Linked DNA regions of Homo sapiens. The protein of the gene in region 2 interacts with the protein of the main gene of each other region in a biochemical or structural test. Each region holds a gene or a part of one and is shown on either strand. Other genes may lie near its edges.

What was found. The genes of interacting proteins can lie anywhere in the genome.
Region 1: the proteins of CPAMD8 (region 2) and ADCYAP1 interact in a test that uses a peptide from one of them, tested with the Homo sapiens proteins (one study listed by BioGRID).

What each region holds. Positions count from the first base shown.
Region 1 is NC_000018.10:907,871-910,605, reverse strand, and holds part of ADCYAP1 (pituitary adenylate cyclase-activating polypeptide preproprotein), read right to left. Parts: intron 2,342-2,735; coding exon 2,243-2,341; intron 2,062-2,242; coding exon of another isoform or gene 2,016-2,061; exon of another isoform or gene 1,174-2,015; intron 1,161-1,173; coding exon 971-1,160; 3' UTR 1-970. UniProt on the Homo sapiens protein: PACAP is a neuropeptide involved in diverse array of physiological processes through activating the PACAP subfamily of class B1 G protein-coupled receptors: VIP receptor 1 (VIPR1), VIP receptor 2 (VIPR2), and PACAP type I receptor (ADCYAP1R1).
Region 2 is NC_000019.10:17,016,531-17,020,699, forward strand, and holds part of CPAMD8 (C3 and PZP-like alpha-2-macroglobulin domain-containing protein 8 precursor), read right to left. Parts: intron 3,824-4,169; coding exon 3,801-3,823; intron 1-3,800.

The DNA of each region.
Region 1 (2,735 bases), on a different chromosome or scaffold from region 2:
GACCTGGGGCAATCTCAAACCAGTCCATTTCCAGGGTCCTCCTCCTACCACCTCAGGCTCTGCCTCTTCCAATATACCTCTATGTCCTTCACTTTGTTCCAATTGCCCTAATTTGGGGATATTAGATTCCCTGGCCACTCAGGAAGTACAGAAAAGAGAGCGGTCTAACGAAGCCGCCCTTTTCTGTACAGTTCCTCAACTCTTCTCCTAGGGAGAGGCGTGAATTCTGGGGAGAAGCACAATTTGGATCGAGCTGTTGTTTTATCAGGAGAATTTTCTTCTGGGCTGAGAGTCTGAAGAGAGACAACTACACATAAAAGGAGAATCAAAGAAAGCAGAAATATTGGAATTGCCACCCAACCAGGGGGACAGAGCCCAGTTGAGTTAGGCTGGGATTGAAGCAGCCTGCCCCAGAGACTCACTGGGAAAGAATGCCCTTCAGCAATTCTCCATATCTTTACCTCAAAATCTCCCTGGAGCAGGGCATCATTGTTTATGTACAGTAGCAAATGGTAAGTAGTAATATCTTCAGGCCTGTCATGGATAAAAATACTATCCTTTTAATTCCAGTTTACAAAAATAGGAGTAATATTCAAAACAATGATTGTCTACTTTTCTATTTATTTTTATAAAAACATAAACAGCTCGGGCGAATTTTCAATCCTTGTGCACGCTTTGTATGAACTTCTCTCTATACTTTATATATATATATATATATATATATATATATATTCTTTATATATATTTATAATATATATCAATAATTGGTCCACAAAGTATATCTGTGCATTCTCTAGTGCTTTGTAGAAAGAAAAACAATATTATTATCAAAATATTCATTTAATGGCTTTACTTCATTACATAAATACATGTTTGGATAGAACACACGAGCGATGACTGTTGAGTCAGTTTGGAAAACGACTTTTCATTGCGTCAGGGCTGTATACACAGGGTAGCTGGTAACCCATCGCTACAAATAAGCTATTCGGCGTCCTTTGTTTTTAACCCTTTGTTTATACCTCTTCCCTAGGACGGCCGCCAAGTATTTCTTGACAGCCATTTGTTTCCGGTAGCGGCTGTAGCTGTCCGTGAAGATCCCGTCCGAGTGGCGCTTGGAGAGCGGCTCCGCGTCGTCCCCCGCGCCGCCGCCGAGGCTCCCACTGCAAGCAAAGGGGTCGGGAAGAGGGTGGCGGGGCGGGAGACACAGGTTCAATCGCCGCGGGGAGCAGGCGGGCCCCACCCCACGCGGGAGCCTTCGGGGAGGGCCCGGGGCTCGCACTGCCCACCGCGTCGCCCGCCTCTGCCTGGAAGCAGCCGTGGGGAGGGCCGAGACGGCAGCCCCTCGATGCCCCCCTCCCCACGCAGGATCTCCTGGCACCAAACCCTGCGGAGGGGGCCCGGGATAAGATCCGGGCAGGCGACGCGCGCTTCAAGCCTAACCTTTCTCCCAGCGCTGCCCCCTTGAGATCCGACCCTTCGTGTGTTTGCGCTAAATTGTCCTCGCTGTTCCTCTCACCCGCGACATACAGAGAAAGTAACCGGAGAGCCCTACATATGCCAGTCTGGCTGCTGCCCTGGAGTTTGCATCGATCCTGCAATTCCTAGTCAAATATGAACACTCCTCTCCCTCCTCACGCCGAGTTGAAAAACGTGATAATAATATAAGTCGACAGGCTGTAGGCAATATTTTTCACTGCATGACTTATTCATGGCGAAAATGTAATCTGTTTTCCCACGGGCTTTATTAGAATGTTGCCTTCTGCCGAGATAGGCTTCACACAAGCCCTGTGCTCTCAGTTTCTCTGGCGTGAGCAAAACTGTTTGGGTCCATAAGTGTCCACATTTGGCCATTTATTATTTCGATTTGAATTTTCAGTAAATACAACCACCCCTTTCCCCTCCCCCAGAAACAGTCATGCTTAGAGAAAATTATAGCAAAACCTCCCTGGAAGCCTGAAGGTTTTGGATGACTGAGAGGTTTGGTTTGGTTTCTCTTTCTTTTCATTCAAAACGGATCAAACTCCCTGGCTCGCGTTCCCTTTTTGCCTCTTCCAGAGCTCTCTGGGCAAATTTAAAGTGCCACTTCAAAATCTCCAACTGCGACCCGTGGCGGATGCCCACCCCAGACCCAGGGGCGCAGACTCACCCTGGCCCCCACGGGCACCCACCGCCGCCCGCCCCGCGCGCCCCGCACAGGCACCCACCCCGGCGCGCGCAGGTTAATCCTTCCACAAACTCTTACCCCACGCCCCGGGCCACGAGCGACTGCAGGTGCTTCCCGGCGGACAGCTGGTCCAGCACTTTGCGGTAGGCCTCGTTAAGGATCCCGTGGGCGACATCTCTAACGGGGAGGCAAAGTGCGCGCCCAGGGTCACTGTTTCTGTCCCCAGGTGGCCGCTAGAGACCCCCTTGTTGGGCGCGCGCCCCCTCGGCGGCCGGGGAGGCTGACAGGGAAACCTCCAGAGGCCCAGAACTCGCCAATAACTCCCGGGATGATCTCGAGAGCAACTGCTAGGATCGGGAGCTAGTCCCGGCTCTAGGAGTGGCAGATGCGGAGTGTGGGTTCCTTGACGCCACTCACTGCCACTCTTTGGGCCACAGCCCCCCTCGGTCCCCACGCGGCCCTCAGGTCCACACAGACCCGCCCGCTGCTGATTTTCTGTCGCTGCAATAGGATCGGGCCAGGGAGAGGACAGGCTTGAGGACTTTCACGGGAAAAAAAAAAAAATCCTGGG
Region 2 (4,169 bases):
CAGGTGGATCACTTGAGGTCAGGAGTTTGAGACCACAGTAGCCAACATGGTGAAACCCCACCTCTATTGAAAATACAAAAATTAGCTGGGCATGGTGGGGGCGTCTGCAGTCCCAGCTACTCAGGAGGCTGAGGCAGGAAAATCACTTGAACCCAGGAGGCAGAGGTTGCAGTGAGCTGAGATCGTGCCACTGCACTCCACCCTGGGCGACAGAGCAAGACTCTGTCTCCAAAAAGAGAGAAAGAGAGAGAAAAATCTAATCACACAAAGGAAAGGCAGGAGAGAGAGAGAGGAAGGAAGGGAGGAGGGAGGAAAAGAAATCCAATCACAGGAAGCCAGGAAAGGGAGTTCTAGGGTCTTTTTTTTTTTTTCTTTTTTCCTTATGCTTCTGTAGGCATTGAAGCCCTAGGGCAGGGACCCTCAACCCCTGGGCCACAGACTGGTACCAGTCAATGGCCTGTTAGGAATGGGGCTACACAGCAGGAGGTGAGCAGTGGGTGAGCAAATGAACCTTCATCTGTATTTACAGCCGCTCCCCATCACTCACATTACTGCCTAAGCTCCGCCTCCCATCAGATCAGTGGTGGCATTAGATTCTCATAGGAGTGTGAACCCTATTGTGAACTGTGCATGGGAGGGGTCTAGATTGCATGCTCTTTATGACAATCTAATGCCTGATGATCTGTTACTGTCTCACATCACCCCCAGGTGGGACCATCTAGTTGAAGGAAAACAAGCTCAGGGCTTGCACTGTTTCTTCAGTTATGGTGAGTTATATCATTATTTCGTTATATATTACAGTGTAATAATAATAGAAATAAAGCACACAATAAATGGAATGCCCTTGAATCATCCTGAAACCATTTCTTCTGCTCCCTGGTCCGTGGAAAAAACTGTCTTCCATGAAACTGGTCCCTGGTGCCAAAAAGGTTGGGGACTGCTGCTCTAGGGTTTTGGTTCAGGGTTTCCTGAATGTGGACTTCTGGGGCCACATCCTTCTTTGCTGTAAGGGATCCTGCGCATTGTAAGATGTTGAGTTGCAGCTGTGGCCTCCACCCACCAGATGCCAGTAGCACCTGGCACCGCCCAGCCCCAACCCAGCTGTGACAACCAAAAATGTCTCCAAACTTTACGAAATGTGCCCTGTAGGGCAAAAGCCCCCTTGAGTGAGAACTGCTGCCTTAGAGAAAGGGTTCTATCATCAAATGTAATGGAGGGGCCAGGTGCTGTGGCTCACGCCTGTAATCCCAACACTTTGGGAGGGCTGAGGTGGGCAGATCAACTGAGGTCAGGAGTTTGAGACCAGCCTGGCCAACATGATGAAACCCCATCTCTATTAAAAATACAAAAAAATTAGCTGGGCACGGTGGTGCACACCTGTAATCCCAGCTACTGGGGAGGCTGAGGCAGGAGAATCACTTGAACCCAGGAAGCGGAGGTTGCAGTGAGCCAAGATTGCATCACTGCACTCCAGCCTGGGAGAAAAAGCAAGACTGCTTAAAAAAAAAAAAAAAAAGTAAGGCAGGAAGACCACTGTCCTGCAGCAAATAGGCACTAGTGGTATACCTCATACAAAAGGAACTATCTCAGCCTCCATTCTGATCAATGGAGATGGGCGCCTTATAATTTAAAATAATTCTCAATTTAGCCCATTCATTCGTAGACTCCTTTGAGCATGTGGTAAAAGTTAAGGAATAGCTAACCCCCCAAATGCCGCAATTCCAGGGCTTACATAATATCTGAAATCCAAGGACTCCAGTTTGAAAACCCATGTCATAAAATTATTTACATAGTTTGGTACATATAATAATTTAAAAATAACAATATTCAATGTCTGAGAGGCAGTGGAGAAATCTGATCCCTAATGTACTGCAGGTGGTTCCATGAACAGGTACTGCTGTGTATTCCAGGACACAGCAAGACCCAGTGAGAGGCTTGGGTCCTGCTGGTAATTCTTCAATTTGGCTGTTTAGCCTAAAGAAGGCATCCAGAATGCTAATATGGCTTTACATACAAACATTCTGGCGACTTAAGGATTACAGTATCAAAACACTGAAAACAGCCCAGGCAGGGTGGCTCATGCCTGTAATCTCAGCACTTTGGGAGGCCAAGGTGGGTGGATCACTTGAGGTCAGGAGTTTCAGACCAGTCTGGCCAACATGGTAAAACCCCATCTCTACTAAAAATACACACACACACACACACACACACACACACACACACACAAAATTAGCCAGTCTTGATGGTGCATGCCTGAGGTCCCAGCTACTTGGGAGGCTGGGGCACGAGAATCGCTTGAAACCAGGGTCAGAGGTTGCAGTGAGCTGAGATTGTACCATTGCACTCCAGCCTGGGAGACAGAGTGAGACTTCATCTCAAAAAAAAAAAAGAAAAAAAAAACCACTGAAACAATCTAGAAAAAATCTAGCTGGGGGCTTAGCAAACTGATATTTAAGAGGGGTGCAATAGGATGCTGCTTACAATGAAATGGAAATTCCAATTACAGAGACTTGGAAACATGGAAGTTGTTTACAACAGTGTGATAAGAGGGACTAGGAAACACCACGGTGTTTTGTTTTCTTTTGTTATGTTTTGTTTTGTTTTGTTTTTTGAGACGGAGTTTCACTCTGTTGCCCAGGCTGGAGTGAAGTGGTGAGATCTTGGCTCACTGCAACCTCCGTCCCATGGGTTGAGGCAATTCTCCTGCCTCAGCCCCCGAGTAGCTGGGATTACAGGTGTGCGCCACCATGCCCAGTTAACTTTTGTATTTTTAGTAGAGATGGGGTTTTGCCATGTTGACCAGGCTGGTCTCAAATTCCTGACCTCAGGTGATCCACCCTCCTCGGCCTCCCAGAGTGCTAGGATTACAGGCATGAGCCACTGCGCCCGGCCAGTGGTGTGTGTCCTTTAACTGAAACTATGAAAAGAAAATGTATGTGCATGAACAAGAATGTGTGGAAAACATGAAAAAGTGAAAAGTATGAAAACTGGATTATCGGTGGATTTCTCCTTTTCTAAATTTCATTATTCTCTCATTTTTTTTTAAATAGGGCCTCACTCTGTTGCCCAGGCTGGAGTGCAGTGGTGCGATCATAGTTCACTGCAGCCTCAACCTCCCAGTCTCAAGCGATCCTCCTACCTCAGCCTCCCAAGTGGTTGTGAGAACAGGCGTGAACCACCATGCCTAGCTAATGGATAATTTTTGTATTTTTTTTTTTTGTAGAGACAGGATTTTACCATGTTTTCCAGGCTGGCCTTGAATTCCTGGGCTCCAGAGATCAACCCACCTCAGCCTCGCAAAGTGCTGGGATTACAGATGTGAGCATGGCACCCAGCCTCATTATTCATTTTTTACATCTCTTTTTTAAAAATGATTTTTCTCACAACACATGCAATTTCTCTTATTCCATCCCAATTCAATTCTTTTTTTTTTTTCTTTTCTTTTTTTTTTTTTTTTTGGTGAGACGGAGATTTACTCTTGTTGCCCAGGCTGGAGTGCAATGGTGCAATCTCGGCTCACAGCATCCTCCGCCTCCCAGGTTCAAGCGATTCTCCTGCCTCAGCCTCCCGAGTAGCTGGGATTACAGGCATGTGCCACCACGCCTGGCTAATTTTGTATTTTTAGTAGAGATGCGGTTTCACCATGTTGCCCAGGCTGATCTCGAACTCCTGACCTCAGGTGATCCACCCACCTCGGCCTTCCAAAGTGCTGGGATTACATGTGTGAGCCACCACGCCTGGCCCAATTCAATTCTTTATTTCCAAGGTCAGGTTTATGATTTTAAAAATCAACGGCTTACCTTGAGTTTGATTGTCCCTTTATCTAAAAATGAAAATAAAATGAAAAAAGTTAAATCAAGAGCTGTGTTGCCCTGCCTCCCTGAGCTGCAGCCTCACAAACCACAAACTTTCTTAACCCAAAGGGGTTTCATGTGGACAAACACACCCTGGGTCATGCTGGCCTGGACTGGGCCAGGCTAGGACTGGCAGAAGCCAGAGGTTTCCTCCAAGCTGGCACAAGCTGAAGGCCAGAGGGAATGGACAAAGCTGAGCTATTCAGGGCAAAGCTGGCCTGCCTAAGTACTTGATTTACTTCACCCCTGGCTCCTGTCCAAACTAAGCTGTGAGGGGAGTAATGGGAAAACACCAGGGGAGAGGAACAAGGAGAA